4 separate regions of the Homo sapiens genome follow, and all the other regions are linked to region 3. The links come from fine-mapping of genetic effects on gene expression. A gene starts in region 3. Each other region holds a variant in brackets. All regions are shown on one strand. Distances are between the middles of the regions. Region 1 overlaps ULK1 (unc-51 like autophagy activating kinase 1). Region 2 overlaps EP400 (E1A binding protein p400). Region 3 holds the start of NOC4L (nucleolar complex associated 4 homolog). Region 4 overlaps EP400 (E1A binding protein p400).

Evidence for each region. PIP is the estimated chance that this variant, and not a neighbour inherited with it, causes the effect.
Region 1: its variant is fine-mapped to the expression of NOC4L in visceral fat (GTEx, PIP 0.96).
Region 2: its variant is fine-mapped to the expression of NOC4L in CD4 T cells (BLUEPRINT, PIP 0.91).
Region 4: its variant is fine-mapped to the expression of NOC4L in whole blood (TOPMed, PIP above 0.99). The same link has a PIP of 0.9 or more in aorta, blood mononuclear cells, cerebellum, cerebral cortex, esophagus mucosa and esophagus muscle.

Annotation. Positions count from the first base shown.
Region 1 is chr12:131,911,032-131,916,031 of GRCh38, forward strand. It overlaps ULK1 (unc-51 like autophagy activating kinase 1), which reads left to right. Exons shown (of 28, transcript NM_003565.4): 13 at 911-1,058; 14 at 2,167-2,227; 15 at 2,716-2,805; 16 at 3,321-3,446; 17 at 4,052-4,200; 18 at 4,304-4,390; 19 at 4,860-5,000. Among named protein-coding and RNA genes, the nearest start is that of PUS1-AS1, 15 kb to the right of the region's middle. RefSeq lists an enhancer at 4,759-4,928 and a cis regulatory region at 4,844. The variant G/A (reference allele first, on the strand shown) is at 2,391.
Region 2 is chr12:132,061,052-132,066,051 of GRCh38, forward strand. EP400 (E1A binding protein p400) reads left to right here. Exons shown (of 53, transcript NM_015409.5): 46 at 1,059-1,272; 47 at 1,415-1,650; 48 at 3,617-3,835. Among named protein-coding and RNA genes, the nearest start is that of SNORA49, 32 kb to the left of the region's middle. The variant A/AC (reference allele first, on the strand shown) is at 2,973.
Region 3 is chr12:132,141,351-132,148,452 of GRCh38, forward strand. It overlaps NOC4L (nucleolar complex associated 4 homolog), which reads left to right and starts at 3,107. Exons shown (of 15, transcript NM_024078.3): 1 at 3,107-3,255; 2 at 3,504-3,624; 3 at 4,209-4,315; 4 at 5,931-6,038; 5 at 6,283-6,432; 6 at 6,530-6,629; 7 at 6,722-6,756. The coding sequence starts at 3,139. It overlaps DDX51 (DEAD-box helicase 51), which reads right to left and starts at 2,969. Exons shown (of 15, transcript NM_175066.4): 1 at 2,643-2,969; 2 at 2,345-2,559; 3 at 1,378-1,528; 4 at 927-1,072; 5 at 769-840; 6 at 500-606; 7 at 148-256; 8 at 1-70. The coding sequence starts at 2,946. RefSeq lists enhancers at 1,055-1,960, 2,890-3,189 and silencers at 2,560-2,759, 2,830-2,879.
Region 4 is chr12:132,079,393-132,087,362 of GRCh38, forward strand. It overlaps EP400 (E1A binding protein p400), which reads left to right. Exons shown (of 53, transcript NM_015409.5): 53 at 1-1,068. It also overlaps the pseudogene EP400P1. Among named protein-coding and RNA genes, the nearest start is that of SNORA49, 52 kb to the left of the region's middle. RefSeq lists enhancers at 3,492-3,993, 5,410-6,270, 5,812-5,861 and silencers at 4,652-4,731, 4,752-5,201, 7,046-7,222. The variant G/A (reference allele first, on the strand shown) is at 3,980.

The DNA of each region.
Region 1 (5,000 bases), 230 kb before region 3:
TCCTGTCTTTGGTTTTGTGCTGACGTGGACAGAAGCAGCGTGTGGCCTTGGCCCACTGACACCTGCACCCCTGGCCTCCCTCGTGTCTTCCATTGGACTCAAAGCATGAGTAGGGTTGCAGGGTGATGGCCCCACATGATGATGGCACTCCTTGTGTGACATGGGAGGGGTCTGCAGAGCACCTGAGTCGGCCATGAACCCCCGTCCCTCTGTCCATCTGACTGGGAGCCTGGCTCTCAGGCATGGTGTTGTGGCTGGTGGTGATGAGTTCATGTCTGGGCTCTCCTGGCCTGGCCCCCTGCTCTGTGACCAGGGACCGGTCCTCTGACCTTGGTTGTCTGCCTGTATCATGGCCGAAAGCTCAGATGTGGCGAGGGGAGCGTGGCAGCGCCCTGCTGTAGGGAGCTGTGGCATCCGCAGACCTGCCCTGGGGCACTTGGGGCTTTAGCCACCACCGCACGGATGGTGTGCCCTGGGCCTTAGCATGGTGCTGGCCTCAGAGCAGGGCCCACCGGGGTGGCAGCCTCTCCACTGGACACGCCTTCCATGGTACCTCGTTCTCTTGGCTATGCCGATGGAAAAGTGAGGTGCAGAGGGCAGGTGGTGAACAACTCCCCAAAACAGGGCCTCCCAGAGCTTCTGGGAGCTGAGGGCTTCAACCCACCCAGGCTGCATGGTGAGAGTGGCTCGTCGGGGGGCCTGTCCCTGCGAGGTCAAAGCTGGCCTTTGAGTGGAGTGCTCTGGAAGTACAGAGAAGAGCGGAGCACAGGAAGAAAGACGTGCCCAGCCCTTCTCAGCCCCAGCGCCCCGATCTTTACTGGGGCTCTGGGCCATCCCAGGAGGGGGAATTTGCTCCCCTGAGTGTGTAGGTCCCTGAGACCTGCTCACCAGCCCCTCCGTTGACTCTCAGTCCCTGGGCGAGATGCAGCAGCTGCAGAAGACCCTGGCCTCCCCGGCTGACACCGCTGGCTTCCTGCACAGCTCCCGGGACTCTGGTGGCAGCAAGGACTCTTCCTGTGACACAGACGACTTCGTCATGGTCCCCGCGCAGTTTCCAGGTCAGGGGGCACGCTGGGCTTGGAGGTGACGCCTCAGGTGCGGCGGGGACAGTGCATTGCATGTGTTGGATGCACAGTGTGTAACACATTTCCACTTATGGGCAGTTAGGATGGGCCCCTGGGAGCCACCGGCATCGGCCCAGCTTGGTTGGGGAGGCCGTGTCTGTTAAAACCACTCCTGGAATCAAAGCCGGGTCCTCCTAGTGGTCAGTAGGAGGTCGGAGGCCATAGGCCTGGTCTCCTTAGACAGTGCTGCTCTTCGGATGGGTGGGGGCCGCTCACCTCATGCCCCTCCCCCGCCATGTACCCCTACCTTGTTTCTCAGCAACTCTTGTTGCCTCTACACCCTGCAGGTGGGTTTATTCCTTGGCTTTTGGGGAACCCCCCGCTCCATAATGGCCAGGGGCTGCCCACGTGTTTGTTGAATGAAGGTGCCTAAACTTTTGGAGCAGGCCTGGGGTCTGTGGCTCCTCTGAAGGCCCTGCACTCTGTCCCTGGCTGTCCCAAAGCTCCTGGAGGTCTGGGTTGGCACTGGTCCCCGTGTCTGCCAGGGACACAATGACTCATGCCGAGCCCTCCGCCTCTCCCATCAGCATGGCTTCTGCGGGGGTGGTGAGGCCCGAGCCAAGCCCCAGACAGACCCGGGGAGGGCCTTGGTCCTTTGCCAGCTGTCAGGGCAACAGGAAGACGGACACCAGGGGTAGGGCAGAGCCTCCTTGGGGGTGGGAACCTGGGTATTCCTGGAGGGGGTTGGGCCCAGACTTAGGGCTGTAGATGCCTGACCTCCCCCGCCCATCCTGGAGTTAGCTAAAGGCTGGGGGGCAGGGCCCCAGGGGTCTCTGGGGCTGAGGAGACAGGAGGCGCAGAGTCCAAGTGGGGATAAGCGGGGGCAGGTAGCGCTCTGGTCTCCCGGAGCTGGCCTGGGGCTGGCAGGGAGGATGCAGCCTGGACTGTACCACCCAGGCTCTGCCCCCCGCAAGGCCGCTGTACGAGCTGAGGCCCCTGCAAGGTGGAGTGTGCGTGGGGATCCAGCAGAGAGCCTCGGTGGGGTGGGGTGGCCCTGGGCAGGCGGCAAGGACTCCAGGCCCAGCCTTGTCTCCCCCTGCAGGTGACCTGGTGGCTGAGGCGCCCAGTGCCAAACCCCCGCCAGACAGCCTGATGTGCAGTGGGTGAGCCCCCATCCCTTACCTCTGTATTTTAGGGGAGAGAAACTGTGGCCTTGGAAGTGGCCCGTGTTATTTACAATGAGCCGAGATCGCGCCACTGCACTCCAGCCTGGGTGACAGAGCGAGACTCTGTCTCAAAAAAAAAAAAAGTAAATGCCGTTGGCCC[G/A]TGGTGGCTCACGCCTGTAATCCCAGCACTTTGGGAGGCCGAGGCGGATGGATCACAAGGTCAGGAGATTGAGACCATCCTGGCCAACATGGTGAAACCCCGTCTCTACTGACAAAAAAAAGAAATGCAAAAAATTAGCCAGGCGTGGTGGCACATGCCTGTAATCCCAGCTACTCGGGAGGCTGAGGCAGGAGAATCGCTTGAACCCAGGAAGCAGAGGTTGCAGTGAGCCGAGATTGCGCCACTGCACTCCAGCCTGGGTGACAGAGTGAGACTGCCCCAAAAAAAACAAAAAAATGCCCTTGGCCTCCCTTCTGCCCCACAGGAGCTCACTGGTGGCCTCTGCGGGCTTGGAGAGCCACGGCCGGACCCCATCTCCATCCCCACCCTGCAGCAGCTCCCCCAGTCCCTCAGGGTAAGCAGGGCCCCAGGCTGGGTGGATGGGGCTGTGAACAGTCCCCCGGCTGGAGGTTGGGCTTCCTGTGTGTCGCAGCCAGCCCAGGCCTGCTGTGTCCAGAGGCCCCTGCCTTCTTCTCCCAGGCCTCGCAGGATGGGGTCTGCTGGGTCGTCCTGCAGAAGGGACTATAGTGGGAGGAGCATTGACAGGAGTAGGTGAATGAGGAAACCAACCAGGGACGCCAGGGCCAGCACAGTCGAGCCTGTAGGGCCAGGAATGGCCAGGGCCCCGGCCAGGGTGGCCCCCCACTGGCTGGGTGCAGACTGGGAGTCCAGGTGGGGTGCAGGTGCCACATTTCTGGTGTGTGTAGAGGCATGGAAGCCGGCTCTTTTCAGACCTGGCATGGGTCTCAGGGTGGCCTCTGCCCTAACTAGGAAGTCTGGGCCTAGGCTTTCTTCTGGTGCCCCAGCTCCATGACCTCAGCCTCTTGTGACCCCAGTGTCTGTCATGATCCTGACCTCTCTCCACCACAGCCGGGCTGGCCCGTTCTCCAGCAGCAGGTGCGGCGCCTCTGTCCCCATCCCAGTCCCCACGCAGGTGCAGAACTACCAGCGCATTGAGCGAAACCTGCAGTCACCCACCCAGTTCCAAACACCTCGGTGAGTGTGGAGCCCCCAGGTAGCCAGGCGTGGCTGGGGCCTTGTGTGGCAGGAGCCCTTCCACGGCTCCCATAGAGGGACAGGGTCGTCATCCATGTGCAGTTGTGCAGGCTGCGCACTGCGTAACTCAGCACCACCATTTACTTTGTTGATGTCTTGGGTTTCTAGAGTTATTTTGACAGTTTTCTGATCAGTAAAATCTCTCTAGTTTATAAAATCAATATTGACTTTGGCCAGTTTTAACAGACAGAAGTAAATGGTGGGAGGAAAGGGTACCTTTCTTTTAACTCACAGAAGGCTGTGTGGGCCAGTGGGTGTCTGGCAGGGGATGGAGACTTTAGGGTGAGGGTGCCTTGGGTTGGCACCCCGGGCAGGAAAGCTAAGGGGCCAACTCCTCCCACACACCCACTGTGTGGCCGGTTACCTGGACAGAGTGCATTAGAGGATGAGCCATCTGTCAGCACTGTAGCCACTTGGCGTGGCATGGGGTCCTGGGCTGCTGGGGCCTCCCCTCCTAATACCTGCCTTGTCCCCAGGTCCTCTGCCGTCCACAGGTCAGGCAGGGCTGCTGAGGCCTCCCCTCCTAATATCTGCCTTGTCTTCAGGTCCTCTGCCATCCGCAGGTCAGGCAGCACCAGCCCCCTGGGCTTTGCAAGGGCCAGCCCCTCGCCCCCTGCCCACGCTGAGCATGGAGGCGTCCTGGCCAGGAAGATGTCTCTGGGTGGAGGCCGGCCCTACACGCCATCTCCTCAAGGTGCGCCTGCAGGCTGGGGCCTGGGAAGGGGCGTCTGTAGGCAGTGGGTGAGGAGGCTGTCTCTGTCCCAGCTGGACCCTGACAGATCTCTCTTTTCCCCAAGTTGGAACCATCCCTGAGCGGCCAGGCTGGAGCGGGACGCCCTCCCCACAGGGAGCTGAGATGCGGGGTGGCAGGTCCCCTCGTCCAGGTGGGTGCAGTCCGGAGGGGGGAGGGGGTGCTAGGCTGACCTCCCTCGCTCACGTTGTCATCCTGGTCTAAAGCCCTTGCTCTTTCCAAGTGAAAAGGAGTGGGAAGGAAGCTGGTGGAACAGAAGCCAACTGCCTCTCCACCTCCTGGCTGTGTGGGCTGGGGCAAGTTTCTTATCCCCTCTGTGCCAGTCTTCTGTGCTGGCTGAGGGTCAGGTTTAAGAGTGGCGCCTCAGCTACTCGGGAGGCTGAGGCAGGAGAACCGCTTGAACCTGGGAGGCAGAGGTTGCAGTGAGCCGAGATCATACCACCGCACTCCAGCCTGAATGACAGGGCGAGACCCCGTCTCAACAAAAGAAAAAGAGTGGGGCCTTGGAGTGCGTCTACCCCAAGGGGCTCCGTGTGGTAGCAGTGGGGCCTAGGGCTGGGCCGCCGGACCGGAAGGTCGTGACGAGGCGTGTCTCTCTCTAGGCTCCTCTGCACCCGAGCACTCTCCCCGCACTTCCGGGCTGGGCTGCCGCCTGCACAGCGCCCCCAACCTGTCTGACTTGCACGTCGTCCGCCCCAAGCTGCCCAAACCCCCCACGGACCCCCTGGGAGCTGTGTTCAGCC
Region 2 (5,000 bases), 81 kb before region 3:
GTAGACTCATGGATGAACGCAGGAGCTCACTGGGGTTAGAAAGAGGAAATAAATACACAGGACAATAACATGCAAGCTGGGGAAGGGGCAGAGGGGCTGAAATGTGCACAGATCTCGTTACTGTTTAGGAAAAGCATGGAGTATTTAGACTTTGGCAAGCATCCGTGGTAATTCCAGACCAGCCACCAGAAGAATGAGAGCAGAGCGAGTTGCTCCCAACTGTGGCAGGGACATTGGTGAGGAAAGAGTCATCTGAGAGGAGGCAAGGAAGGAGATGAAAAGAAACATACAGCAGCTGGGTGGAATGGAAAACATGGAGTAACACGCTAGATTTCCATCCAAATGCGTAAGCAATGAGACATAAAAGGATCAAGAGAAACTAAAAATACACTGCACTTCGGAACCAAGGGAGCTGGCAGAGGTCAGCTGGAGGGACACTGCAGAGGTGGCATGATTGCGTTTGCCTTCCAGTTTATGGTGGGACAAGGAAGGACGGTGAGGCAAGGTGGGATAGGGTGAGGGGACCACTCTGGCTGCCACTTCTGCCTGCGGGCCAGAGTGGACTGCAGGGCACAGTGAGGATGCTCTGAATTTTAGGCAAGATGAAGGTAAGATGCCACAAGACCCCACGCACATGGTGAGACACTCAGGGCTGTAGTTTCAGCACAGATGGGGACAGTGGTAGAGAGCCAGGACTGTGGGCTGTGTGTTTGTGGGTAGCATGGGTGCCTCAAGGACAGTCGTTACGTTCCTGGGGACCAAGAGGTCTTTGTGCGGAGAGGGAGGGACAGGACGGCCTTTCCAGCATGTGCACGGGCGTGCCGCCATCTGAAGCGTGTTTCTGTGGGTGATGTGATCTGCTGGGAGAAACCATTGCTCAGGGCACTTGCTTGTGAATTTACACATGAAATCAGCAGTTTTCAAAAGACTGAACTCTAGCGTGTGTTTCACTTGTTTCGCCTCTGAAGTTGGGTGCTCTTGTCTTCCCTGCTCTGAGTGTGAACAGCCCTGAGTGCTGTGTGAAATATTTGATGAGGTCCTCTGTTTGCCTTTTCTAGACGCCGGGAGGCTCTGCTCCCGCCCAGGTGGTGCACACCCAGCCCCCGCCACGGGCAGTCGGCTCCCCAGCCACGGCGACCCCTGACCTGGTGTCCATGGCAACGACTCAGGGTGTTCGAGCGGTCACTTCTGTGACAGCCTCGGCCGTGGTCACTACCAACCTGACCCCAGTGCAGACCCCGGCACGGTCTTTGGTGCCCCAAGTGTCCCAAGGTAAAGCCAGGCTGGGAGCTTTCTCTGCCACACGTCTGCTCTGGCGCGTGTGAGGGCTCAGCTGCTGCTTGCTGTCTGAGAATGAGGATCTGAAGGTGGGCGAGTATCCCTGTCCAGACCTAATGAGCAAACCTCTTCATAGCCACAGGAGTTCAGCTCCCTGGAAAAACCATCACACCTGCACATTTCCAGCTTCTCAGGCAGCAGCAGCAGCAGCAGCAACAACAGCAGCAGCAGCAGCAGCAGCAGCAGCAGCAGCAGCAGCAGCAACAGCAGCAGCAGCAACAGACGACGACGACCTCTCAGGTGCAAGTTCCACAGATCCAGGGCCAGGCCCAGTCCCCAGCACAGATCAAAGCTGTGGGCAAGCTGACGCCGGTGAGCATTTCCCAGAGGACCATGAACGTGTGCGTCTTGCGGTCAGTCAGCCCAGCGTCTGTGAGACGGTGCCTGCTTGCATGGTGCAGTCCAGAGTGTATTTTGCAAACGTCTAGCACTGCCTTTATGTAGGACGCGTGCTTCGTTTTATTGGTCTAAAATTTCCCATGTCATAACACTTTGATCATGCCTTAGAGAAGTCTTACAGCTTATTCAGAGCACTTTGGAGACATTAACACCCAGCGTGCAAATGCGTCTTCTTGCTTAGGCGTCTTGTGCCTTGTGTTCAGCATCAGTCTCTAGGCCCGCTTGGTGTGGTTCTGGACCAGAGAAAGTGCTGGTGAGAAGATATTCCTCAGCAGTGTTGGGAGAGCAGGCGATGGACCCTGGGTTTGTTTCGATGTGGTTCACGTGCGGTACTGTTTCTCAAAGGTGGTCATTGGAGTACTGATGTACCTGATTTTTGCTAACCTCTGTACCAGCTTTGCTGTTCTTTATGTAAATATATTCATTTTCAAAGGAAATGTTGGGCCGGACACAGTGGCTCACGCCTATAATCCCAGCACTTTGGGAGGCCAAGGCGGGCAGAGCATTTAAGGTCAGGAGTTCGAGACCAGCCTGGTCAACATGGCAAATCCCCGTCTCTACTAGAAATACAAAAATTAGCCGGACGTGGTGGCGGGTGCCTGTAATCCCAGCTGAGGCCCAAGAATCGCTTGAACCTGGAAGGCAGAGGTTGCAGTGAGCCGAGATTGTGCCACTGCACTCCAGCCTGGGCAACAGAACAAGACTGTGTCTCAAAGGAAAAAAAAAGGAAATGTTATGTCCTACCATAAATGAAAAATCATTAATACTTGTCATAGAAAGTAACCAGAGACACATACGGAATAAAGACAAGACAATATTTTGAAGTTTCAGCTCACTGTTGGGCCTGCCGGAGTGCTTGAGTCTGGGCCTCTCCGTGGTCTGGAAGGGAGGAAGTGGGCTGCAGGAGACGCACACTCAGCTGAGGGCCCCTCCTGGGGCTGTCGGGAGGGCTGTCGGTGGAATTTAGACATTGAGCTTATCCTGTTCCTGTCACACCAGCCATCCCTCGAGGGCTGCATGGCCATATGTGGCTGTGGCTACCACCCTGGGCAGCCCCCGCCTAGCCCACTTGTATCCTGCGGGACGTGCCACTGGACAGTGCTGAATTAGAATGCTGTGCTCAAGAGTCCCAGGCCCAGCAGAGGCAACTGTCAGGGAGTCAGAGCCGGGCTTTGACCCCCCCGGCCCACAGCCACACAGGTACCTTGTCACCTGCCCCGGTTCAACCACTGATG[A/AC]CCCCCCCCCGGCCCACAGCCACACAGGTGCCTTGTCACCTGCCCCGGTTCAACCACTGATGACCCCCCGGCCTACAGCCACACAGGTGCCTTGTCACCTGCCCCGGTTCAACCACTGAGACACCAGTGCCGTCAACATCAAGGCTGCCACCCAGCCTTGGCTGCCAGGAGCTCTGTGTGCCAGCTGTTTGCCTGTCTCCTTCGTTCCTCACTCTGCCCTCTCCCAAATCCATTTCAAAACCAGTTCACTTCCAGCATTTCAAAAGAGACTTGATAGTCATGATCAACTCAGTATAGGTTTTCTTAAAAAATTTTTTCTTAAAATGTTTTTTGAACTTCAAATAAGTTTGGTTGGTGCTACAGATTTAAATCGACTTGTTTGTGAGGATAATAGAATTCTTTTTGCTATGAACTTATCAGTCAGAATCCGTGTTTGTAGTTTTCACCGACGAATGCACATTTTTAATAAATGAACACCTGGAAGATACTGGGCAGCCCATGGAAGGCGGTCTGGATGCTGCACGGTAGCAGGTGTCTGCTTTGGTATTTAATGGGCAGTAGAGGGGTGGCTTAGGAACAAGATGTCTACTTAAAGAATGGAGCACAGTTAATGTTGAAGAGAAGATACTTTGCTTGTATTTTAGGAACACCTCATCAAAATGCAGAAGCAGAAACTGCAGATGCCCCCGCAGCCCCCACCGCCACAGGCCCAGTCTGCGCCCCCGCAGCCAACAGCCCAAGTGCAAGTGCAGACCTCGCAGCCGCCGCAGCAGCAGAGCCCCCAGCTCACGACGGTCACGGCCCCAAGGCCTGGTGCCCTGCTGACGGGCACCACCGTGGCCAACCTCCAGGTGGCCCGGCTCGTAAGTGTCAGTTTCTGTTTGTTTTCCAAAAGCAGCATCTTTTTATGTTTTAACACAGCTGTTGCGCTTGCTCAGGTGCGTGTCACGTGTTACAGGAGTGAGTGTGAGACGGGTTCTTTTCCCCGAGAACTTAGTACCCCTTGGACAGAGGACGGGACTCACCACTCGTGGAACATTAACACAGCAGCAGCTCCCAGAGCCCATCCAGGCATCACCAAGCTTCTCAGGGCTTGAATTGAGGGGGGTGGAGAGTGAGCGAGGTGAGATGCAGCCTGCGTGGCTTCCCTGTGCTGCTGAGGGACCCTGCAGGGACCAAGGCCTGTGTGGCTGGAGCAGAGGGCGCTGTGCATGTAAGCCGTAGGCATGGGCAGGTGGCGGTCTCTGAAGCTGCTCTCAGGTGACCGCTGTAGGCAGGGAGAGCATTTGGAGATTTCAGAAGGGACTAGCATCAGGCGCAAGTGCTGTCTGGGAAGACTGGCTCTCAGCAGGTGCCAGCGTCCCGGGGCAGGCAGCGTCACTGCACCGTGACTAGAGCTCAGCTAGGGGTACTGGTGACAGCTGCCCTGTTGGAGGCTCACCCTGAGCTAGACTTTGCCCTTCGTTCTCTTGTGTCTTTCACCTGGCCCAGTGCTCATGGACTGCCCCAGGCAGGGATAAGGGTCTTACTATTAATTCCATTTTACAGGTTAAGAAACTGAGGCATGTAGGCTAAGTTCCCACCCAAATCCCACAACCAATCAGCTGCAACTCAAGCTAGGATTTGGGGACCCAGGTGCTCAGGCTAAGCTGTGTGGGTGCTGGACCCCCACTTTGGGTCTTCCCTGGGAGGGGCTAGCCCTCCACAGCAGAGTGAGTAGAAGTGGATAAAAAACTACAGAAGGGTGCTTGGTTTCATTCATGTTCACAAAAATGCAAATTCACTGAGAAGGGTGGTAACACCTAGTGGTAGCCAGGGTACCGGGTTCTTGTTGGACAGGAATCAGTGGCCTCTTTTTGGAGAGGATTTTGGTAATTACGCTATGAAAATGTGCACGCTTATTTAACTAAACACCCCCTTATGTCCTGCAGAGATAACTGAACATTTACAAAGTGATGAATGTACAAGCTTGTTTGCTTCATGAGTGTTAGAGGAAATTAAATGTCCATTACTAAGAATTTCATTAAG
Region 3 (7,102 bases):
CGGCCGCCACCACCCGCGGCAGCCAGGACTGATGCATGCTGTCAATCATCCGGTCAGCCTCGTCGATAATCTGCAGGAGACAGGGAGCCCGGGACTGGGTGGCGCGGCCCTGAGCTCAAAGCCCAGGCCCCTGGGGCGGGGACCTACCAGGAAGCGGAGCTGCTGGAGGCTGAATCCTGGGGTCTGGTCGATGTGGTCCACCAGGCGGCCGGGGGTGGCTACCACGATGTCAGCCAAGCAGCGGTACCCATCAGCTCTACAGACCAGAGAGCAGCTCGAGAGAAGGAAGCTTTCTCAAGGGCTTCCGGATAGCAAGACGCTGCCTCACCCCACAGCCCCGACTCCACCCCACATGGGAAGGGGGCCGGTGGGAGCTCCTCCTCTTCACGGGAACAGGTGGTTAAAGATGGTGGCCCCTCCTCTGCTCCCACGGTGCCTCAGGCCACCTGCAGGGCTGAGCAGGGACCCCCTGAAAAACCCGCACCCTGACACAACCTACGTTTTCTGGACGAGGCTCTCCTGCTCCTTGGCCAGAGACTTCTGTCCCGTAACCAGGGAGACTCTCAGAGGTGTGGCATCTGTGTAGATGTTGAAAACTTTGCTCACCTGCAGGAGAAGTCTGTCACTGGCCTGGAGGTAGCTGGTGTCCACCTACTGCAGCAAAAAGGACCCCAGATCTAATCTGGGTCCCCCAGGGGCTGATCGCTGTGCACTCAGCAGGGAAGCTGAGGCGGGCGGTGCCACGCTCCAGGTCTAGGGTCCACATACCTGCTGGGCCAGCTCCTTGGTGGGCAGCACAACCAGGGCACGGATGTGGCAGACCACTCTCGAAAGCAGGGCCTGAGGGGGAAGGAGCGCCTGCGTCAGCAAGGCTGTTACCTGTCCTCTGCACACCCGCTGTAGAGAAAGGGGACCCTCACACAGACCTGCACCACAGGGATGACGAAGGCCAGTGTCTTCCCACTGCCTGTTGGGGCAGAAACACAGAGGTCGCTAGGCCGGTAGCCACCTCTGCCCACCAGAAACCCACAGGCTGCGCTCTCCAGGAGGGCAGGAATCACAGCTGCCTGGACTGGATGAGGAAAGGCGAGAGAGAAGTCGTGTTTACGCCTAGGCCTAGGCCTGCCGCTTCCCTGCCTGTGACCTCTGGGCTGGGCTGCTCTGCTGGAGGCCTGGGAACCGCTCCCCAGAGGGATGGCACCAAGGCCCAGAGGAACGCCAGCCTCAGGAGACCCAAGTGGGAACCATGAGCTTGAGAGTGCTGAGACCACACTTGGCACCGATGTGGCAGGGACGCCTGACCCACGGCCACTCACAGCCTTGTGTGTGGGTGCCCAGGGAGGTGTTCCCTCAGCTGCCTGCCCGGGGCTGGGGCACCTGGAAAGTAGGACGAGATGCCGTGTGCCCGCAGCTGCTTCTGCAGGTCAGGATGGACGTCAGGGATGTCCTCGATAGGAACCAGGTCTTCGGTGACATTCCTTCTGACACAGTTAGGCTCAGCCAGCCACCTTGGCAGGAAAGGCTGGACCTGCCATCAAAAAGAAAGAGAGGCCAGGTGAGCGCTTTCCAGGCTCTCGCGCAGAAGCCCACGGTGGAAAAAGCTAGGGGAGGGAGGCTGGGGAAACCTCTGTCGTCTTCAGCTCCTTCTCAGCCCCAGGATGCGCTTTCCATACAGCCTTCAGAAGTTAAACAGTAAAAGCAGATGCCACTCCCTGAGCAAACTCACTCTGTAGCCTCCCATCAACCCACAGTGGCACCCACCCTCCCGCAGCCAGGAGGTCCTGTGACCTGGCGCTCGCCTGCCCCAGCCACGCCGGCGTCCCTGCCTCGAGGCCTCTGCCTGGCACCCCCAACCCCCAACCTTGACCTGGCTTCAAGTCTTTGCATCCCAACTCAAAGAGAACCTCCTCCACCTGCCCTACCTAAGGTGCCCGAGCACTCTGTCAAACTTCTCGCTTTCTTCACCTGTCTCGCCGGAAATCTCTTTACCGAAAACCACACGTGCTAAGCAAAAACACCAACGGTCAGGAGCTTGCAGAACGGCCTCTGACTTACTCCTGAGGCGGTGAGCGCACAGCAGGAAACCCCGCACGTTCACGCAAACACATCTTGCAGAACTGGCGCGGCGCGGCGGGAGGACAGGGGCAAGCCTAGCAGAGGAAACGGGAGCTCTGCACGTGCAGGATCCAGACCCCTAGGCGATGAAACTGCAGACCTGGCAGCGAGGCGCGGCTGTGACCCGGGAACATTCGCTGAACGAAATCTTCCGGGGCGACCGCCGCACTTAAGAATCCGCGCAGCCTACCCTCTCACGCCGACCACCCTCCCGCCCGCCGAGGCTCACCTTCGGCGCCTTCCTCTTCCCGAACCCCCCCAGCACCAGGCCGGGGACCAGGGGTCCGGCCGCCTCCTCCAGGGCCGGTCCATCTGGGGCCGCCTCGGCGCTGGCGCTGGTGCTGCGCTCCCCCGGCGCCTCCTCGCTGCTCCCTGCGCTGGGCTCCCCTGGCGCCTCCTCGCTGCTCCCTGCGCTGGGCTCCCCTGGCGCCTCCTCGTTGCTTTCTGCGAGGCAGACACCCACCCGGCAGCGCGTCAGCACCGAGTCGCCGGCGCCCCAGAGGGAGCCCGCTCGCCCCGCGGCCCACCTGCGCCCGCGTCCTCGCCGTCCGCCTTCCGTCGCTTTCCCTGCGGCGCCTCCGGGCTCCCCGGCTCCGCGTCGTTCACCCGCCGCCGCCGCCGGGGCCGCCGTCGCCTCCTGGTCGCCGGCTCGGTCGATGCAGCCGCCTCGGTCTGCGCGGGCTCCCGCTGCTGCTGCCGTTCGCGGGCCCGGCTCTGCAGCCGCTCGAGCAGCGCGCGGGCCCTGCCGTGCGCCCCGGCCTCCGCGCCCTCCGGCCCCGCCGCAGCTGCCGCATCGGGGCCCGGGTACCGCGCGACGTAGAACAGCGCCATGGCCAGCCGCACGCCTGGGACTCGGGCGTGGCGCGCTGCGATGACGTCGGCGGCACGCCTGCGACTCGGGCTCCGCGCAAAAGATGGGGTTGGGGTACGGCGCGTAGAGATGACGTCGGGTTCTACGCGCAGTGGTGACGTCACGGGAGCGCCGGCGGCTGAGAATCCGCGTTGTTCCGTGTTGGGGGCGGCATGGAGCGGGAGCCGGGCGCCGCGGGAGTTCGCCGGGCTCTGGGCCGCCGGCTGGAGGCGGTGCTGGCGAGCCGCAGTGAGGCCAACGCCGTGTTCGACATCCTGGCCGTGCTGCAGGTGGGCCTGGCGGCGTCGCAGGGCCGGAGTCGCGGCACGGGAGCGGGACTTGAATGGGGGGCTGCGGCGGCAGGTCCCCAGGAGGTTCCGAGACGGCGTTGGGGGGTCAGGGTGGGAGGCGTGTGGGTCACGGGTCGGGGGTGACGGGGCTGGCGTCCCGAGGGGGAAGGGAACGGGTTGGGGGCAGCCTAGGCAGGGGCGAAGGTGACAGTTGGCGGCCGGGCACCCTGCCGCCGCCTCTCCTGCAGTCTGAGGACCAGGAGGAGATCCAGGAAGCAGTCCGCACGTGCAGCCGTCTTTTCGGGGCCTTGCTGGAGCGGGGAGAGCTGTTTGTGGGCCAGCTGCCCTCTGAGGAGATGGTCATGACAGGTGAGCCCTGGAGGGCCCCGGGGCTGCTCTTCTCTTTCCGTGGGTCGGAGGGAGGCTTTGTCACCATGGGATGAGCGCCCCCAACCCTGGCACAGGCCGTGCAGGCTGGTGGGAGGACGCACCAAGCCCACCGTGGAAGATGGATGGTGGCGTTGGGGCAGGGGTGACATGGGTGCCCTGCAGCTGAGTGTAGATGAACACTGGACAAGGTACGACTTTTTGTGTGCTTTGCACCCCTTTTGTAATTTGATGTTGACTGATCCTGACACGGTCGCTTAAACTCGGAGCTTCCTTTATGTCCCCATCCTGGGGACGTCAGGTCTTGGAGTAAAGAGAGGGGATGTGGATCCTGCTCCTGGCAGCTTGGCTGGGGCAGTCCTGGGGTAGGAGGTGCTCTTCCTGTTTGCAGGGCTCAGGGAATGTGCTGGTCTCAGCACAGGTCTGGGGGCCTTAGCGACCTGTTTCCACCTGCGGAGGCTGAGTAGAAGACAATGGGAGGGTGGAGCCAGGCCTGAGATTTTGGGCTGGGCCCAGGGTGGCGTATGTGGGCCTCACGTGGGCTGACCACCCTAACCTGTCTGCAGGGTCCCAGGGAGCCACACGGAAGTACAAGGTGTGGATGAGACACCGCTATCACAGCTGCTGCAATCGCTTGGGAGAGCTCCTGGGCCACCCCTCCTTTCAGGTCAAGGTGGGTCATTGGGCTGGCCTCATCCTTGTCCATCCCCTGCACCCCAACTCCCAGGTTATCCACAAAGCAGAGGTCTGGGGCTCCCACAATTGTCCAGGCAAAGCTGCTTCCTTCATGGGAGCATCACCCTGTGGGTGTTCAGTCCCATTCAGAAACATGGCTATCGAGTCCTGTAGTGAATATTGAAGACGCAGAATCCGTGTTCATTTCCAGTGGCATCCACGGGGATCTCTGTGTTTGCATAGAGCACGCACACCAAGCCTCGTGCCAGTCCACAGATGTGTTTGCTCAGATCACACTGTGGTCTGCAGCCATGGGAATGCATTATGAGCTTTCTTAAAATCTGTAGTGAGGAATAACTGAGGCACAGTTTACCGTTTAAAGCTGAGAAGTTAGCATCTGTTACTGTGTTGTGCAGTGGTTGCCGCTATCCCAGAACATCTTTATCGCCCCGAAAAGAAATCCTGTACCAGTTACCATCGCTTCCATATCCCGCCCCTTTCCACCCCCAGCCCCAGGCAGCCACTCCTGGATCAGTGGTTACTTCCTGGATCAATGGGTTTGCTTTTTTTAGACGCTCCTCATAAGGGGGATCATACGGTATGTGGCTTCTTCCACTCATCGGCGTGTTCGAAGTTCGTTCTCTTTGTGGCTGAGTAGCAGCGCGTCGTATAGCACAGCACGTATCGTTCAGCCGCTCGTAGGTTGCTGGGCATTTGCGTCGTTTCCACCTTTGGCTGTTACGAACAGCGGACTGTGAACGTTCGCGTACAAACTCTTGTGTGATGTTTCTTTTGCTTGAATATGCCTTATCAGTGGAATTACAAGGCCACACAGCAGCTGTGTTTTTAATGTTCTGAGGAACTACAAGACTGTTTTCCATAGTAGCTGCGCTATCTTACCCTCCCCCTGGCAGCATTTGAGAGTTCCATACTCCACATCCTCGCCAACACGTCTGTCTATAATTATAGCCGAGCTGCAGACTTTTAAATGTTGGGGAGATACCACGTGAAAATAACCAGTTTCCACCTTCTCAGAAAGAAATAATCAGTTCTGTCAACACGGGGTCTAAGTTTGTTCATGGCTGCGATTGGCTGGAGGGAGAGTCAGAGACAGCTCTGAGACAGCCGTGTGCTCCTGTCATCCCGCACGAGGCTCTTTTGCTTTGTGGTGTCATTTGCCTGGGCCCTGAAAGCACTGAGTTTGCCACCCCGAGATGAGAGCTTCCAAGCCTGGGTCTGAGTTGGGCACCATGCTGGCATCACACGCCTGTGTTTTCACAGCTGTTCCCAAGGGTTATGGTGGCATTCCCGTGACACAGGTGACGAGAGAGCAGTCAGGTGGCCCATAAAGCAGACCTGGGCTGTGTACCCTTCCCCCGCCAGACTCTGTCGTGAGCACTGGATCTCTTTAACTAGAGATCTTGTCATCTCTACGTCATGGGTGGGACACGGAAGCCCAGAGTGGCATCTGGTGGCGTGTGGAGCAAGAGAAGGCCCGGCCGCCCTTTTCTCAGCTCTGGGCCTAGATGGGAGGGGCTCCCTGACTGGGCTGAGCTCTGGGCCCATCCGTGGGGTGAGGGCATCACAGCCACCCTGCACTGCCCCCTTCCCAGGAGCTGGCCCTCAGCGCACTCCTGAAGTTCGTGCAGCTGGAAGGAGCGCACCCCCTGGAGAAGTCCAAGTGGGAAGGCAACTACCTGTTCCCCCGAGAGCTCTTCAAGGTGAGGGCCTTGCTGGGGACTCCCAGAGGGCCTGGCTGGCTGGCCAGATCCCAGGATGGCCCCGTAGTGGGGGCGGGGCCTGCTGAGCTGAGCCTGGCTGTTGGCTGGGACACTCCTGTGGCTCCTGTGGCCCACCCAACCAGGAGGAGTCTGCCTGGGGGGCTCGATGGGGCAGGGCTGCCTGCCTGGACCTTGCTGGCGTATGCTGGGCCGGGCAGGGCTGCTCACTGGTCCTTGCCCCTAGTTGGTGGTGGGAGGCCTGCTGTCTCCTGAGGAGGACCAGAGCCTGCTCCTGTCCCAGTTCCGGGAGTACCTGGACTACGACGACACCCGCTACCACACCATGCAGGCAGCCGTGGATGCCGTGGCCCGGGTCACTGGCCAGCACCCCGAGGTGGGTGATGGGGTCCTGTCGCCAGCATCATGCTGTTGCCTCCCAGGGAGGCAGGGACTGGGGGGCGGCGTCCAGGCACTCAGGCCAGGCTCCGCAGGTGCCCCCCGCCTTTTGGAACAATGCCTTCACGCTGCTGTCTGCCGTGAGCCTGCCCCGCCGGGAGCCCACCGTCTCCAGCTTCTATGTGAAGCGGGCGGGTGAGTGTGCTGAGAGTCAGGGGCGGACAGGGCTGAGCCTTGGTCTGCCTCCCCTGCGGGTCAGGTGACCTTTGCCCTCGCTTTCCCTGCAGAGCTGTGGGACACCTGGAAGGTTGCTCACCTGAAGGTGAGTTGCTTCTGGAGAGCCGGGCACCCTCCCGGGTTTGGGGGTGTGTGTGGGGTGCATGTGAGACCCCATGGAGGCTGCCGCCTTCCTCACCAGAGGAAACTCCCAGGGTACAGGTGGCAGCTTGCACGGCCACCAGGTCACTCGAAGTGTGGGAGGTGACGAGACCTGTGAACTCGGGACCCTCCCTTGGGTCAGAGGCCACCGCCGCCTCTTGGAGTCAAGCCTCTGGTGCCACCTGTGGGCCCCGTGGGCTGTTTTGGGCGCAGCCCCCCTCTTGGCCATGGTCTTGCCAAAGCTGCTTTCTTGGCTGTTCTGAGACTCCAGCCTCGAGGGCAAGGCGTAC
Region 4 (7,970 bases), 62 kb before region 3:
GAGGGAGGGCCGCTGTGTGCGCCTCACATCTGGCTCCCAGTGGAAACTTTTACTCCTCCTCATCCGCAGATGTGATAGAACTGAAGTATCTAGGAATTCTGCCTTTGTCATTTGTTTTAATTTGTGTGCCCTGTTCATTTTTTTTGTCTTTCCCAAATCTTGGTAGTCTCCTTATAGTTGAAGATAAAATGTTGAGTGCACTTATTTTAGAATATCCTAGACATAACTGTCTAAGTAAAAGCGCTCTATTAATCTAAAACACTACAAGAGAATTTAACACCATCTCTCAAATGCTTTTTTGGAGAGCTTAATGGGATTCTGAATATTTGCAATGTGGAGTTTCCGCCCCGATCTCACGTCAGTGAGGGTCTCCTGTCTCTCAAGTGTGTTTCCTTTGGCTGTTCCCTAATACAAAACACGGACATATTTTTACTCGTAGCACTCAATTTAGTAACTTCTAGATGCTACCGTTGACCTGAGTTAAATTCATTTAGTCGTGTACGTAAAAACTCTCCTTTTAGTGTGTTATTTTCTTGGCCTTCCCTTTTAAAGGTTAAAGTTTCTAACCTAAGAATTAAGTACGCGTTCAGGAAGCTGTTGTCTAGGCCTTCCCCTTGTGAATCTGGGTTCATTCCAATACGGCAAGTAAGAGTTGGAAACTTTGAGAACACAGACTATAAAGGCAGCAGCCCGAACACTGTCAGACTCTAATTGGCGACCCTGGGAAACAGTTGCCCTGCTATTCTTTAAAGAAAGACGTTTATTCTGATGATAAAAACAGTTAGCCAGACTGTTTTTAAAGCACCTGGCGGGAAGCAGAAGGTTGGATCCAAGCCCTTGTTCAGATTTGGTGCCTGATAAGACAGGGGTTTCTCTTTTTGTGACCTTTATTATTATTATTTTGTTAACTGTTGTAACCAGTTAGCTGTTGTGTTTTAAGATAGAAAGGAACAAGACTAAAATTGTAAATACTTTGTAAACATCAGCATTTGTACTTGAATAGTAGGATTTTAAAGGGCATTGATAGCATACCAAACAAAAGGCAAAATAAAGTGACCTTTTTATATATTTTTTCATTTTGTCTTTCATAGAAAACTGGTATTTAAGTTAAATGAGATGCTGAATTTTTCATTTGTGTGAAGAAAAAACCAACAAGTAATGTTGGAGCCAGAGGTGTTCCCCTCACCCACTCTTCCGTGGCCATAGAAGGACCTGGAAGGAACAGAAATCACATTCACCAAGTCCACCAGGCAGCCGCTTCCCAAAGCCGCACGTGGAGGAAAGAGCTGGCACCGCCCTGCCCCATGTGGCCTGCCACCCTCACAGCACCCGTCGTCAATGTCCTGGGGGCCACACTGGCACCAGTGTCCTTCCACACCCAGTCTGTGTGCCCAACTGGCACCAGTGTCCTTCCACACCCAGTCTGTGTGCCCAACTGGCACCAGTGTCCTTCCACACCCAGTCTGTGTGCCCAACTGGCACCAGTGTCCTTCCACACCCAGTCTGTGTGCCCAAGTAAGGGCAGGGACACCGGCTCACAGGTGCTCACCACCGAAAACGCCTGTGAGCAGATGGCCTGCGAGTTGTTGCTTCTCTTTTTCTTCTGCTTTTAGACTTTTCTTCGTTTCGTTTTAAATCTGATTACAAAAATCAACGTACACTTTTAATTGAAAACGCACACATTACGCAAAGTAAAGAAGCATCCCAGAAGCCCCTTAGTTTCTGTATCTTTTCTCCCACCACAAAAACGGGGGTGCACGGGCACTTGGCCCTGCAGCTTTGGGCTTCCACCTCCGGTCTTCCAGATTGAAAGCTCCCAGGGTCTGGTTGCACACTTCGTGTCTGCAGGTGATAGTGCAGATACCAGGGTGGGCGAGAAAGCCAGCTGCAAAGCCCGGCTGGTGCTCCCTGGCCTCTGGGGGTCTGTACTGCAGTGCCTGGTGCACCTGCGGCTCCATGCCTACCAGCCACATAACCAGGGGCAGGTGACTTCCTCCTTCAGGGCCTCTGTGTCCCCATGTCCCCTCTCCTAAGGTGGCTTGAGGATCCAGTCCAATGTTGGGTGCTGCACTTGGTGTCTGTCTTTTATACTCCCAACGAAGAGGACTGCAGGTTTTGCAAAGCCTACTGTTTCTGTCATCCTGACCCTACCATCACGTCTTTGCCAAGTGTGCCTGTGGCAGCAGGCCCTATGGCGGGCTTATCTGGCCTGGAAGCTGTGTTTCTGTTTGCTGTCCAGTAGCGACCAGGGGCCAGTGGGTGAAGCAATTGTGCCTGCGCACAGCCGTCAAGACCTTAAGGTAGCTTCTGAGCCCGGAGTGTGTTGTGTCACCTCCTACTCGAGATGTCAGATCGTGTGACAGCTGCCCACCAACACCCCAGAGTTGGGCATTGTGATCCAGGGCAATGGGAGGGGAGATTCCTTTGCCATAGGGTGCCCTGCTATGCTGTTGCTGCAGCATCTATTCCCCTAATTTTTCTAAAGTTCCCATTTTATTGGGTAGATTATGCTATATACATTCGGTGGAATGCAGTGCAGCCTCTACAAAGTACAGCTGTGCTGGGGGATGAGTTTGTGAAGTATGCTACCAGGATGGAACTGGTTGTATGCCTGGATGTGCATAGAATATCCTGGAAGTATTTGCCCCTGCATGTGGTGGATTCTACGTCCATGAGTTCAACCGACCAAGGAGCAAAAATATTCAGAAACAAAAATGTGTCTATACTGAACATATACAGACCTTGTTTTGGGGGGGTTATTATTTCCTAAACAATGCTGCATAACAACTATTTACATGACATTTACATTGCATTCACTATTGTAAGTAACCCAGAGATGATTTTAAAAAGATGTTTTTGAGTTATATGCATTTTGCATCAGGGGCTTGAGCCTCTCGGAGTTTGGCATCCATGGGAGGTGCTGAGGGACGATTGTACGTTGTGTTAGCACTGCCTCTGTGGAGGGAGAGACTGGGGGGCAAGGATCAAGGCTGCTGATCTGCACTGTTATGCGCGTCCTTTTAACTGTTCAGGTAGTTTGCCAAGTGCATGAATTTTTGTGTGGTGGGGGCGGGGTGGGGGTGGGGACAGTCTCACTCACTCTGTCGCCCAGGCTGGAGTGCAGTGGCGTGATCTCAGCTCACTGCAACCTCTGCCTCCTAGGTTCAAGCGATTCTCCTGCCTCAGCCTCCCAAGTAGCTGGGATTACAGGCGCGCACCACCATGCCTGGCTAATTTTTGTATTTTTAGTAGAGATGGGCTTTCACCATGTTGGCCAGGCTGTTCTCGAACTCCTGGGCTCAAGTGATCCGCCCGCCTCGGCCTCCCAGATTGCTGGGATTACAGGTGTGAGCCACCGCACCCGGCCATGAATTAATTTTTAAAATAAGGCCCTATCAGCTTTTTTGTCACATGGTCCCCTACTCGGGAACCTTTATTTCCGACCTCCTGCCTGATCTTGTGTAGCCACCTACACTCCGACCAGCCCCCAGAGCAGCATCGTTCTGCCCCCTGTGCAGCCTTTCCTGTCTCCCTGACTTTGTGCTCGTCTCCTTTGTTGTAAAGTATTTCTCCTACTTTGAAGACTACTCCCACTTAACTAAGTGTGCATCCATTCATTCATTCATTTATTCATTTCTCCCCAGTGTTCTCCTCCAGTAGTATCTTGGGCTGAACAACAGTATTTGTCTTATTTCTCCAGCTGTAGTGTGGCTCTGTTTTATCCCTATTCAATGAATATTTAATGTAGCATATTTCATGCCAACTTTACCACTAGTGCTGGAGTGGCGGAAGGACAACACTTGGCTGTTTAAGAAAATCAAAGCTGGCCGGGCACGGTGGCTCACACTTGTAATCCCAGCACTTTGGAAGGCCGAAGCGAGCGGATCACGAGATCTGGAGATCGAGACCATCCTGGCTAACACCGTGAAACCCCGTCTCTACTAAAAATACAAAAAATTAGCCGGGCGTGGTGACGGGC[G/A]CCTGTAGTCCCAGCTACTGGGGAGGCCGAGGCAGGAGAATGGCGTGAACCCGGGAGGCGGAGCTTGCAGTGAGCCGAGATCGCGCCACTGCACTCCAGCCTGGGCGACAGAGCGAGACTCCGTCTCAAAAAAAAAAAAAAAAAAAAAAAAAAAGCTGATCAGAGAGATGGATGAATTACTGGTTTATTCAGCTGTTTATAAAGTACATACTATGTGGCAGTTTAGACAACTAGGCTATACTTGCCAGCAAAATAAAAAAGGGGGTTGCATCCTAGCAGGTCAGATAAAATAATTCAGGGGATAAGTACCATGAAGAAATGGACAGGTGGTAAGTGATACGGGTTTCACTCTTAAATAGATGGGCAGGTTATGCAGTGGAAGGCGCCTGATGCACAGCTCCAAAGCTCACCCGTCTACAGTGGACACGACGAAACCAGGGACATGTCCCACCATTTCAGTGGTCACAGGCAAGAGTCTTGTGGATCTTCGGATCCCACGTAACATCTCATCTCCCTAGGCACCCCGACTCCCCTGCCCAATTTAAAACAGACCTCAGCCTGCCCCATCCCGGCTGCTTTGCCTGGTGCTCTTCTAACTGCATGTTTATCTATCCTCCCCGCCTAGACTGTAGGGCCCGCGAGGGGAGCCGCTAGCTGTGCTTGTCAGTGTGACCAGCGCTCAGCAGGTGTCCGGCGGGAGGGCGGGCAAATACAACTCAGTGCCCACGTGCGAATGAATGAACAAACTAGTTCCGGGCGGAGCCAGAGGCGCGCGCCGGCGCGGACCGAGGCCCGGCCCTATCCGCCCCGCCCCCTCCGCCCCGCCCCCTCCGCCACGTCCCTCCGGGTCCGCTGGGCGCTGATTGGTCCGAGCCTCGCCTGCGCAGTGCCGGGCCGGCTCCCGCGCTTGCGCACTGGCTCCGCGTCGGCCGGTCGGTTTGGTCGGTTGTAGTGGCCTCGCCGCCCGGTCCGCTGTCGCAGCGCTCATCCGCGCCGGGAGCCCTTGGCTGCGTCGCCCGGCAGCCGCGGTGAGTGACGGCCCGCGTATCCGCTGCCGGGGCTGTGGCGGGCGTGAGGGGTTGGCCCTACCCTCGGCCCCCGACCGCCCACATCCGCCGGTTACCCTCGAGGCTCCCCGGCCGCGCGCTCCCCTCTCTCCGTCCCATCACCCGGTGACCCCGGCTGAGCGAACGCCCACCCCTCCCTCAGGGACCCCCTCCCCGTGACACGATCCCCCGTGAACGCCCACCTCCCTCAGTGAACACTCCCCCGTGACATGACCCCCCGCAAACGCCCACCCATCCCTCGGTGACCCTGCGCCCGTGAGCGCCCACCCCTCCCCCTGCGACCCCTCCCCCCGCCACCTGGCAACTGCCGTTTTCCCGCCTTCCCTCCTCCGCCCCCTCTCCCGCATCACCCCGTTTTCTGGTGACCGCTCCCCCCCATCCCGTGACACAAACCCCCGACCTCCCAGCCCTTCCCCGGTGACACGATCCCTGTGACCGTCTGGCCCGGTAACCGCCCCTCCCCTCATGACCCTTCACCCAGTCCCCTGGTGCCCACCCCCGTCACTGCCGCCCGCCTGGTTCCAGCCTCGCGAGACCGCTGTCTACGGCGCTGACGCCGCCTCTGCCTCTTGACCCCTTGGCCCCGCTGTCCTGATCCCTGAGGTCGGGGCCTGGTCTGCACTCCAGGAAAGACGAGTGCGCTTAGTGTGCGCTGCACGTGAGCAGTGAAGTTGATTCCACGCGCTGCGCTGCTCGGCAGCTGTCCCAGAACTGACCACGGACCCCTCCGCGGGTCCTGCTCCTGACAAGGGCCTTCCGGCACTGGGAGTTTTGTGTTAGTGGAAAGGAAGAATCTAATAATACCACCACCTTTACAGTAAAGACGCTGCGAATTGACGCCTTTTATAATAAAGACACTTATCTTGCCCAAGAGCTGGGTGAGTATTTCCTCCTTACCAAAAAGTTGGTTTACTTACAGTTAACTGGCTGAAAGTTTGAGTCTTAGGCTTATTTGTGCCGCTCCAGGCAGGCTGATTGGCGCTGGTTTCCATCTGTCAGATTGGACAGCAGTACCACTGGCTGTTGGGGGCTCACGACCAGATAGAGTCTTGTCTGGGAACCACAAGTGAGTGTTGTTACCACAGCTCTGCAGCAGTGAGGGCACCTCTCAATCCACGTGCAGTCGCCCCACCTTATCTTCAGGGGATACGGTCCAACACCCTCAATGGATGCCTGAAATCAAGGATAGTAGTGAACACTATATACACTGTTTTGTTATGCATCCTTCCATATCTACGATAAAGTTTAATTCATAAACTAGGCACAGGAAGAGATTAATAACAGCTAATAATAAAATAGAACAGTCGTAACAATATACTGTAATAAAAGTCATGTGAAAGTGATGTCTCTCTCCTAAAATATCTTACTGTATTGTACGCACATGTTTTTGAACTGCAGTTCACCGAGGGTTACTGAATCCATGGATAAGGGGAGATTACAGCAGTTTCTTTTCTGACTATGTTATTGAGACTTCAAAACTAACTAAATTGTTCGTTGAATGGAATTGTCCAAGGTGTACAAAATGACAGTTGTAACACAAAGGTGTTTCACTGACATCCCTGTCACGTTTTTGCTAAACTAATGCACTTTTAAAAATTATTATTTATGCTGGGTGTGGTGGCTTATGCCTGTAATCCCAGCACTTTGGGAGGCTGAGGCGGGCAGATCACCTGAGGTCGGGAGTTCGAGACCAGCCTGACCAACATGGAGAAACCCGTCTCTACTAAAAATACAAAAAAAATCAGCCAGGTGTGGTGGTGCTTGCCTGTAATCCCAGCTACTTGGGAGGTTGAAGCAGGAGAATCGCTTGAACCCAGGAGGCGGAGGTTGTGGTAAGCTGAGATCACACCACTGCACTCCAGCCTGGGCAACAAGATCGAAACTCCGTCTCAAAAAATATATATATTACTTATAAAAGTCTGTACTTCATGTTCAGTCACAGTAGAGACAAGTAGAAACTCCCTCCTTCAACAATACCTAGCACTCAAGGAGAGATGGCCTTACAGAGTCAGCATGTGGTGCAGAGGTCTCTTGGCCATGATTTTAGGTCCTCCTGGGTCCACATCGTCCCACCTGGCCATGGATACGTTGTCATCTGATCTGTTCACTGTTAAGGTAACAGTTGTCATAACTACTACAAAATGGTTAAGTGTTAGGACTTTAATGATGGTGATCATGTAATAAAGGGCCTGGAGGATAATGGCATGCTTACGAATTTTCTGGGTGGTATTCACATGTTTGAAAAAGCATTGAAATGTATGATTTTGGGTGATGACTCTGAGAAGTATGGAGCATGACCCATTTTGAATAGGAGAACAGAATGTTGTAAAGTGATTCTTGGTCCCCTAAGAGTCCATTGACAACCACCATGTAGAGGAAAAATGGCAAAGAATGGGCTCTCTCCAAAGTCAGGTGCTGAGGCCCTTCTAAGGAGGAAAAGCCAACGCCCTTTCACTGTGGTTTCCAGCTGCTACAGGAACAAATAGTGTCTATCTGTGTCCAGCTTATTTTTTGACTTCTTTGAGTCTGAAGATACTTTGAAAAACTTTGATTTGCCAGAGTAATTTTTTGTACCTTGGAATGAGCCATATTTTTAATTTGCTTTTTGATGTTACAAAATGTACCCTCATAAGAATTCAAACAATACAGAAAAATAAGTCCTTTTCAGTCCTTTTGTGCTGTAATAACACCCTCCATCTTTTTTTCCATTTCAGTTAGTAATATGTCTTCAACATCTGCTCATGTCAGGAAATAAAAATTTATTCTCTTTTTTTTTTTTTTTTTTGTTTCGAGACGGAGTCTCGCTCTGTCGCCCAGGCTGGAGTGCAGTGGCGCGATCTCAGCTCACTGCAAGCTCCGCCTCCCGGGTTCACGCCATTCTCCTGCCTCAGCCTCCCGAGTAGCTGGGACTACAGGCACCCACC